Regions from separate parts of the Homo sapiens genome. Here region 2 is linked to region 1. Evidence: fine-mapped expression QTL. A gene starts in region 1. The other region holds a variant in brackets. All regions are shown on one strand. Distances are from middle to middle. Region 1 holds the start of STAM2 (signal transducing adaptor molecule 2). Region 2 has its middle 25 kb from the start of STAM2.

What was found.
Region 2: its variant is fine-mapped to the expression of STAM2 in whole blood (TOPMed, PIP above 0.99).

The regions. Positions count from the first base shown.
Region 1 is chr2:152,173,343-152,178,723 of GRCh38, reverse strand. It overlaps STAM2 (signal transducing adaptor molecule 2), which reads left to right and starts at 2,961. Exons shown (of 14, transcript NM_005843.6): 1 at 2,961-3,121. The coding sequence starts at 3,082. It overlaps LOC105373689 (a long non-coding RNA gene), which reads right to left and starts at 3,191. Exons shown (of 3, transcript XR_923477.3): 1 at 2,167-3,191. RefSeq lists enhancers at 2,604-3,023, 2,500-3,023, 3,184-3,323, 3,374-3,423.
Region 2 is chr2:152,197,601-152,202,981 of GRCh38, reverse strand. No RefSeq gene overlaps it. Among named protein-coding and RNA genes, the nearest start is that of STAM2, 25 kb to the right of the region's middle. The variant A/G (reference allele first, on the strand shown) is at 2,650.

The DNA.
Region 1 (5,381 bases):
AAATAGGGATTATGGGACAGCCCATACACAATTGAATCTAGCATTATTAACTTTAAATGTTTTGAGCCTGCCCAAAGAAGGCCAGATGTTATCAGCAGCTGAACAGCATCTACAGAAACCAGATGCAAAGACAGAAGCAGAACAACTGATTTGGTGGAGAGATCCGGTAACAAAAAGTTGGGAAATAGGTAAAATAATAACTTGGGGTAGAGGTTATGCTGTATTTCTCCAGGCCAAAATCAACAGCCGATTTGGATACCATCAAGACACCTGAAACCTTATCATTAGCCAGATGCCAAGGAAGAGATTCTGGGAGGATCCCAAGGACCCCCCCCCCCGGTTGCAGCCATGTTGAGACTGACACTGAGAAGGACCCCAACTGTCGTGAGCTATACCCATCAAACACAGCCACCCACCTGGGGACAGACCAAGAAGCTGTCACAGATGGCAGAAGAAAACCTGAGGAAAGCGGGACAACCAATCACAACGAGTAATTTAATGGTAGCTACCATAGCGGTGATCACCATTGCCATAAGTATTCCTTCAACAAGGGCTGCCGAGACCAGCTCGGTCGGGGAGAGCCTAACCTAGCGGCGCTAGAGGAATTAAAGACACACACATAGAAATATAGAGGTGTGAAGTGGGAAATCAGGGGTCTCACAGCCTTCAGAGCTGAGAGCCCCGAAGAGAGATTTACCCACGTATTTATTAACAGCAAGCCAGTCATTAGCATTGTTTCTACAGATATTAAATTAACTAAAAGTATCCCTTAAGGGAAACGAAGGGATGCGCCGAATTAAAGGAATAGGTTGGGCTAGTTAACTGCAGCAGGAGCATGTCCTTAAGGCACAGATCACTCATGCTATTGTTTGTGGCATAAGAAGGCCTTTAAGTGGTTTTCCACCCTGGAAGGGCCAGGGGTTCCTTGCCCTCATTCCAGTAAACCCACAACCTTCCAGCGTGGGCATTATGGCCATCACGAACATGTCACAGTGCTGCAGAGATTTTGTCTATGGCCAGTTTTGGCCATTCTCCTGAGGCAGGAGAATGGTGTGAACCCAGGAGGCGGAGCTTGCAGTGAGCCCAAATCGCGCCACTGCACTCCAGTCTGGGTAACAGAGTGAGACTCCATCTCAAAAAAAATTTTTTTTTACTATTCTGCTACCCAATATCCTTAAATAATTATTGAGTGCCTTAATCAAAATAAAAAATTCCCAGCTTGCCCTTTAAAATTCTTGTCAATCTGTTTCCTCTTATACCTAGTCAGCCTTGTTTTCCATTCCAACACTAAGTCTTAGACAAAAAGTCTTTATCTGTCCAAAAAATCTCTAAGTCTTTTTTTTTTTTCTTTTTTCGAGACAGAGTCTTGCTCTGTTGCCCAGGCTGGAGTGCAGTTGCCTGATCTTGGCTCACTGTAACCTCTGCCTCCTGGGCTCAAGTGATTCTCGTGCCTCAGCCTCCCAAGAAGTTGGCATTACAGGCTTGCGCCACCATGCCTGGCTAATTTTTGTATTTTTAGTAGAGACGGTTTTTCGCCATGTTAGCCAGTCTGGTCTTGAACTCCTGGCCTCAAGCAGTCTGCCCGCCTTGGCCTCCCAAAGTGCTGGGATTACATGCGTGAGCCACCATGCCCGGCCTCCCAATTTATCTTGAACATCCCTAGGTTCAACGTTCTATGAAAAACAGCCCCTTCTGCACGATTCCTTCTCATTTGTGCCCCGAACTTTATAAAATGCAACCACCTTTCTGAATGTGTATGAGCTCTCTATAGCATCAGGTCTTTATACTAGAGTTTGTAAAATGGTTTTGATTAATCTATTATTTAAAATGTTGGAGTAATTCTCAACATTTAAACATCATTGAAAAATTGCAAACTCTAGTAGGACCCACATTTCAATAAATGGCTGCAATTTACCAGTAGTTGACATCTTTAGATACGCACTGTTCAGTTAGAAAGTTACAGCTTCATTCGAAAAGCATTGAGCGTCTATTACTTGGGACACTGTTTTAGACGCTGGGGATATAGTAGTGACCAAAACTTATCAGGGAGTTTATAATCTAATGAGGAGGAGAGACAGGCAACATAATCATTACTACAGTTTTCTAAGAGGAACAGAGAATATGTGGGTGGGAAGGGTGCTTGGGCTTTTGCATTCATTTAAATACCTGGCTGGATGCTGTTGGAATTTGAGTTTATGACTCGTACTACCATCCGAATCGTCATACACCATCATGTACGTTATGCACTGCCCCTATAAAACTCTCAACAAGTCTAAGGCAGGGAGTGTGCCTCCTTCGCCTTTGGATTCCGGGGGCCCAGCAGTGTTTTTATGGAGGGGACACGATGGAAAGCGAAAAGTTAGGCGTAGTTACTTCGACCACCGCTGTCCCGGGTGGTTATTCTGACGGGGTTTGGACTGGGCGCCTGGGAGGGTGCAACACAATAATTGTTGAAGAGCAGTCAGGTCTTTCGCAGAATCTCAAAGCCACCTCCGCGCCGGCAGCTCCGTTTCTAGGGAAACAGGACTGTAACGCGTACGCGTCGTGGGTCCTCGTTCTCTAGCTACGAGTCCTGCCGCTCTGAAACAAACTAAATTCGTGACAAGAACTTGGCCCTCAGAGCCCGTCGTCCAACGCGAAAAACCACGGGTAACCGCGCCCCCTGCCGCGCCGCCGCTGGCACTGCAGCTTCCGGGGTCGTCCAGTTCCAGGCGGGACTACTTCCGGCTCCGAAGGTCCCCGGCTTCGTGGCTAGCCGGGGTCCTAGCGCTGGAAAGGTGGCCGTAGCGGCCGCCTGACCCCTACAAAAGTCTGGGACAGGGGCAGCGACAAAGGCCTTGGGAGGACGCCCATGGTCGGAGGGATCTCGCCCCGGGAGAAAAGTTGGGACAGGAGCGCGGGATCGAAGGGTGGACTCCGAGCCGGCCTGTCAGGCAAGAGCCGGGCAGGTGCGGTGGCGGAAGTGCAGGGACGGAGGCCGAAGCGGAGCGGTCTAGGGAGCCGCGGCCGCGGGTCACCCGGCGGGTAGCAGTTGCTGAGTGTCAGCTAGACAGCAGCGACTAGGGCTCGGGCGCCGGCGAGATGCCTTTGTTCACCGCCAACCCCTTCGAGCAAGACGTGGGTGAGTGCTGTGCCCGGTCCTGGACTGCTGTGTGCCTGGCCCTGGACTGCTGTTTGTCCGGCTAGAAAGTGGGCGGTAGCGACTCCGGGGACTAGGAAGCAAAGCGAAGGGAGGGGAGGGGCGGTGCCGCCCGCTCCTTCGACGTTGGGATTTTTCTGGGGCAACCTCGGCGCGTCGCTAGCGGTCTGGGGAGTGCTTCCTGCCGCCTGAGTTTGGGGACCCTCAAAGGGCCGTTCTCCTTGCCAAGCGTAGGATTTGGGAAGAGCCTAGGGCTCGCTGGAGACTGGACTGATTAAGTAGTTGTGGAGTTGGTGATTAAAAACTTCCTGCTCGTTCGACAGCTGGTTACCTCCGTCTTTGCCCCATCGTTTTCTGAAGATGATGCAGCAGTGGAGACCCTGCTGTCTAGAGAAGCCCAACACTAGACACTTGACACCTAGACAACCGCATTGAATAGGAAGAACTTACTTCCCCATTATTTATATTACTCATGCATTCAATCCCTGATAGGGTAGCTTTAAGATTTATTACAATTGTAAAGGTGTTGCTCTTCATCCCCGGATTGCAAAGATTGCGCGGGTGCTAGGAGATGTTCGGTTTTAGAGTATGAAAAGGAAATCTCCAGTCTCAAAACACTCCAGAACAACAAGTATTTTACATGTTGCAGTCATAAAGCGCTGGTCTCTCAGTGACTATAGAATGAGAAAAACATGGATAAGATATATACGAAATTATTTAGGAAATTTGAGTAACACTAAAACAAACTGAGAAATATATGTATGTATTCTCGAAAGTCTGGGTCTCACTATGTTGCCCAGGTGCGACTAGAATTCCTCCCACCTCAGCCTCCACCTCCGTTTCCCCTTCCCGAGTAGCTGGGACTACAGGTTTGTTTTTTGTTTGTTTTTGTAGCAGTAGTTAACAGAACCCTAGGTAAATTTTTAGAACTTGGAAATGGGGTTGGGGCGGGGAGACTCAGAAGAATACTGCACATCTCAGCAGTAATTCCCCTGTTTCATAGTTAACATTTGGTTATTAGGAGACTGTAGAAAGTGCCCTATTCTGATACGTTGTGTAATCCCCTAAGCCATTTTAAAAAACATGTTTGAGTCAAATAATATATGTAAATAGTTCAAATATGTATGTTCCTTACTTCATTAAACTTTTTTTTTGGTGGATGAATACAGGTGACTGGCGTAAATCTGGGAAACATCACTCTTAAGGCTCACTGTTTCCTTTTGGAACGCCTCATTGCAGTATTCTTTTGTTTGAATCATACAACCTTTGTGCAACCTGTACTTTTAAAAAATTGCTATTATGAACACTTTGATTCTGTTCTAATGAAATAAAACAGAAGGCGCAAAATAGAATTAGACAAATGATTTTAAAACTTAAAAACCGTGAATTCTTTTCTTCAATATAAATTTTTCTTGAAAGTTCATTGTTTTCTGATGGAAAAATTCTCTGGTACAAGTAGGCAGAGTTGCTCTGTCTGTTCTGTTCTAAACCTTTCCCTGCCTGGCTCCCGAGGCCCCAGCATTGGTTTAGTGGATCACAGTTTAGTCCTACAGTTGTAAAGGAGGCACTGCTGTTGAGATTAAAAAAACAAACAAACAAAAAAACTGTGTCTAGATTATTTTATGGCCAGTGCCATAAGCCAGAGCTTCAAGTAGTTACATATTAGCTTAAGCATGACTGAATTCAGAACCCCAAAGGCATTTTAAGGGTGAAAGAATGAATTTGAGGCCCTCCTGTAACTTCTGGACAAGAGAATGGAATTAGAAAAAGTAGAATGAAATACTAAAGAGCTCAAATTGGACTTGCACGTATATCATAGAAGAAAAATTATATATTACGTTTTTAATATCTTAAAACTTTTCATTTCAAATCGTTAATACAAAGCAAGGGTCAGGCGCAGCGGCTCACGCCTGTAATCCCAGCACTTTGGGAGGCCGAGGCGGGTAAATCACTGGAGGTCGGGAGTTTGAGACCAGCCTGACCAACATGGTGAAACCCCGTTTCTACCAAAATACAAAAAATTAGCCAGGCATGGTGGCGCGTGCCTGTAGTCCCTGCTACTGGGGAGGCTGAGGCAGGAGAATCACTTGAACCCGGGAGGCGGAGGTTGCAGTGAGCCAATATCTCGCCACTGCCCTCCAGCCTGGCGACAGAGCAAGACTCCGTCTCGAAAAAAAATATATATATATATGTATACATATATATATATATGTATATATATGTGTGTATATACGCCCACAGA
Region 2 (5,381 bases), 24 kb before region 1:
AAAGAAATAGCACTCGAATATAAAATTTTCTTGTTAATTCTCAGCAAGGCAAGGTACTTCTATAGAAGGGTGCGCCCTTACAGATGGAGCAATGGTGAACACACATTTGGACAAGGGAGGGGAAGGGGTTCTTATCCCTGACGCACGTGGCCCCTGCTTCTGTGTCGTTCCCCTATTGGCTAGGGTTAGACTGCACAGGGTAAACTAATTCCGATTGGCTAATTTAAAGAGAATGACAGGGTGAGTGCTTTGGCGGGAGTCAAGGCAGAGCAGGTAGCAGGTAATCAGAATGAGTTAGGGTGGAGCAGGTGATCGGAATGAATTAGGGTGGAGCAGGTGATCGGAATGAATTAGGGTGGAGCAGGTGATCGGAATGAGTTAGGGTGGAGCAGGTGATCGAAAAAGGTTGCTTTATGAGGAAGTTAAGTTTAAAAGTAGAAGGCAAAGAATTGAACATACTGACATATTAACTCTTTGAAAAGAAATTTAGAACTCATATCTAACAACTGTTTCTCAAAATGTGGCCCAATTATTTTAATGCATTAAAATCTCCTGTGGTGTTGCTAAAAATGCACATTCCTAACCTTACCTCAGCCCTGCAATATCAAGACCCCGAATAGGAGGGGTAGAAGGGATGGGACCTTTCTACTTGAGTTTTGTCACATTCTTCTAGGTGAGTCTCACTCACATGAAGGAAAATAATTATATTAGATTCTCAGAAAGATTTCTTCAGTATCGAGATCATACAAGAAAGAAATGTCAAGCCATGAAAAAGACACAGCCAATCTCAGAAGGCTGTACATACTGCATGATTCCAATTATATGATATTCTGGAAAAGGCTAAACTGTAGAGGCAGCAAAAGATCAGTGGTTGTTGGCTGGGTGTGGTGGTTCACGCCTGTAATCCCAGCACTTTGGGAGGCTGAGGCGGGCAGATCATGAGGTCAGGAGATCGAACCATCCTGGCTAACATGGTGAAACTCCGTCTCTACTAAAAATACAAAAAAATAGCTGGGCATGGTGGCAGGCGCCTGTAGTTCCAGCTACTTGGGAGGCTGAGACAGGAGAATGGCATGAACCCGGGAGGCGGAGCTTGCAGTGAGCCGAGATCACGCCACTGCACTCCAGCCTGGGCGACAGAGTGAGATTCCGTCTCAAAAAAAAGATCAGTGGTTGTCAGGGGTTGGTGGAGGAAGGGATGAATAGGTGGAATACAGAAGATTTTTACAGCCACGAAAACATTTTATATGATATTACACAGAGTACACTACATGGTGGATCCATGCCATTATACGTTTGTCCAAACCCACAGAGTGTGCAACACCAAGAGTGCACTGTAATGTCAACTATGGACTTTGGATGATAATGATGTGTTCATGTAAGTTCATCAGTTGTAAAAAATGTATCACTCTGGTGGGATATTTTGATAGTTGGGAGTTTGTGTGTGTGATGGCAGGAGGTATATGGGAAATCTCTGACCTTCTGTTCAATTTTGCCATGAACCTAGAACTAGTCTAAAAAATGTCTTTTTAAAAAATCACGGTAAAATGATTTAGTAAGTTCTGAAGGTGTTTTTCTTTTTATTTAATACATTTACTATATGCCTCCAAAGTTCAGAACATTATGCTAGGTGCTGAGGAAATAAAAAGATGACTAATATGGAGGTTTCTGTACTCAAAGTGATTCTGTTCTGCTAAGGGAAGAGTAGAGTGCCCAGAATGGCTTGATTAAGAAAAAAAATAAAGTACTCAAGGTTCTAACTGCAGTTATGACTTGGAATGAATTTAAAACCCCCACCTCATATCTAATGAGTTTCTCAAGAGATCCAGATTCCAAAAATGTTAATGAGTGACCACATTATAGATCCATCTCAGAGATAGCTATAAAAGCTGAGACCAAAAAAAGGAATTCCGAAAGATATTTTAAAACAGAATTTTCAGTGTCTTAGTTGGGTTCCTAGAAGCGGAGCTTAGACAGGAATTCATGTGCAAGTGATTTACTGAGAGAGTGCTTTCCTGAGACATTGTAAGGGAGTGAGGGAAGGGGAAGAAGCGAGTCAAAGGTGTGGTTTCAGGAGATGTCTAGGCTCAGCTTCAGCCTGCGTAGGTACAGAGAGCGCCAGAGCATGGAGCAAGTAGAGCACTTCACACAGAGGTTTTCCTGCCTGGAGGCAAGAGGGCTGGGCTAGTATACACTCGCACAGTGACTCATTGGCCATGGGCCACCACCAGCCGCCTTCCAGGCTTTCTAATCATATCCTGTCAGCCAAGGGTAACGCCCCTCACTCCCTCAAAGGGTGCAGCTGTGAGTCAGGAGCAGCCAGTACTCACAGTGGCTGGGGTTGGGTGCACTGCCCAGTAAGGGGATCAGGGAGGACACTGAAGGCATCTGTCACATAAAGAAATGAACTGTCACATAAAGTTCAATGAAAAGGTTCTTCATTGCCTTTCCAGTTTTAACTGTTCTTATTCCTTTTTATCAGCTGTTTTCATAATTTTAGTCTCAGGAATTATCTTCGTTTCTAAGAATTATTGAGGCCCCCAGAGAGCTTTCTTTTATGTTGATTTCATCTGTTGATATTTACCATAATTGAAATTAAAACTGAGAAACACTGAAAAGATTGATTCATTTAAAAATCAGCGGTGTCTG[A/G]AATGATTCATCCTCTATGCTGGACACTCTTCTGTCCAGGCTCTGCAGTCAGGCTGTGCGGCTTCAAATCTTAGTTTCATCCCTTACTTGCTATCTTCCGTTAGCATCTTTGTGCTTTATTATCTTCATCTTTAAAATGCACTTTGTAAAAGTTAATTATTAGATTGTTGAGAAGATAATGAGATAATCCACACCAAGTGCCTGACACATAGTAAGCACTTCACAAATTTCAGCAAATACTAGCTAATATTTTCATTCCCTCACTATACCTTTCATTAAGACCTCAATTACCTTGTGTCTACAGAGTTCCATCAGTTTCCTGCCTGGCTTCTCCAGTTTCTCACCATGTCTCCCTCCATCAAAACATAGTAAACAGACTCATACACATACTTTTTCAAATGATTCCACACATATATACATATATACTAGAGTTTTTGTCCTAAAAAGTTTTTTCATCATATTATCTCTCTGCTCAAAGTCATTATTTCCATGATTTAAAACAAAAATCCCTATGTTAGCTTGCAATTCAAGTGGTTTCACAGCTTGGCTCTTCCTAGTCTTTCCAGTTGTGACTGTTGTTATTCCTTTGTATCAATTGCTCTCATAATTTTGCTCTCAGAACTTCTCTTTGTTTGTAAGAATTATTGAGGCCCCCAAAGGGCTTTCTTTTACATTGATCATATCTGTTGATATGTACCATATTTGAAATTAAAACTGAGAAACGTTGAAAAGATTGATTCATTCAAAAATAAACATATTACATATTATCATGAACACCATAGGTTTTATTAAAAAATAAAGATGTTTTCCAAATTCAACAAATTTCACGAAAAGAGCATCACTTTCACATTCGCAAATCTCTTTAATATTTGGCTTAATAAAATACAGCTGCATTCTCATATCTGCTTCTGCATTCAATATGTTACAAACATGTTGTTTTGGTTCAAGTATATGAAGAAAATCTGGCCTCTCACAGATAAGTAGTTGGAACAGGGAGAGAAGTAGTTTAAATCTTTATGGTTAGCTATAGATATTTTTCTACGATACAACACTAATATTCAAAAAATGGTAGTTTCTCAAAGGTTAGCTGCAATGAGGAATCTGTAACCGTATCAATGGTCTTTCCATGCTCTGTTATATTAAAATCCGTTTGGCTATTTTGCATTGTGTGAGGATACTTGTGCATGATTTTGATCTTACAGACTCCCTGACGGGTCTCAGGCATCCCAGGGTTCCTCAGACTGCATTTCAAGAACCACTGCTCTATACGAACTCTCTGTACTTCTCGTTCTAAAATGTACCTGGGATTTTGTTTTTATTCAGGTATGGTGAGGTCAACAGGTCAGGCAGGAGACAATTGTCACTGAAAAAGATAATTTGTTATTCACAGCTCTCAAGAGAAGGGGGCACTCCATTCCATGCAGAGCCACATGGGGAAGCCACCAGGGTCAGTTAGGCAGCAGAAGATGCAAGGAGGAGGCATGGGCAAAAGCCTTTATTGTGGTTTTCATGTGAAGGAATGCGCAAGGCAGGATAAGGAGCTAGGCAGGCTTAGGATTGGATAGCTTGAATAATTTGGGCGGGCTCTGGACTATAGGGGTGGTCTCTAGTTGTCCAGTACCTGGCCCTAGGGTGGCTGAGGTCAGGAGGACACTGCAGGAGTCTGATGGAAGGAGGAGCTGGGGGTGTGGTTGGTTTGTATATCAAAGGCATTCTCAAAGCCAAGTTGTTTGCTATCTCTAGGAATTTGCTATCCCTGAGAGGGGCAGTCCCTCCCTGAATCCACAAAACCCCAATATGTCAAAGCCTCACAAAATATAGAAAATGAAAGACATGATTAATACACCTCTCAGGTTGGTTTAATTACTTTCCCATAATATACCAGATATATTTTTTTTTCACTTTTTTTAAAATTATACTTTAAGTTCTGGGATACATGCGCAGAACGTGCAGGTTTGATACATAAGTATACACATCCCATGATGGTTTGCTGCACCCATCAACCTGTCATCTACATTAGGTATTTCTCCTAATGCTATCCCTTCCCTAGACCCCCACCTCACAACATGCCCCGGTGTGTGATATTCCCCTCCCTGTGTCCATGTGTTCTCATTGTTCAACTCCCACTTATGAGTGAGAACATGCAGTGTTTGGTTTTCTGTTCCTGTGTTAGTTTGCTGAAAATGATGGTCTCCAGCTTCATCCATGTCCCTGCAAAGGACATGAACTCATCCTTTTTCATGGCTGCATAGTATTTCATGGTGTATGTGTGCCACATTTTCTTTATCCAGTCTATGATTGATGGGCATTTGGATTGGTTCCAAGTCTTTGCTATTGTGAAGAGTGCTGCAATAAACATATGTGTGCATGTGTCTTTATAGAATGATTTATAATCCTTTGGGTATATACCCAGTAATGGAATTGCTGGGTCAAATGGTATTTGTGGTTCTAGATCCTTGAGGAATTGCCACACTGTGTTCCACAATGGTTGAACTAATTTACACTCCCACCAACAGTGTAAAAGCATTCCTATTTCTCCACATCCTCTCCAGCATCTGTTGTTTCCTGACTTTTTAATGATGGACATTCTAACTGGCATGAGATGGTGTCTCATTGTGGTTTTGTTTGCATTTCTCTAATGACCAGTGATGATGAGCTTTTTTATGATTCATATGTTTGTTGGCCACATAAATGTCTTCTTTTGAGAAGTGTCTGTTCATATCCTTTGCCCA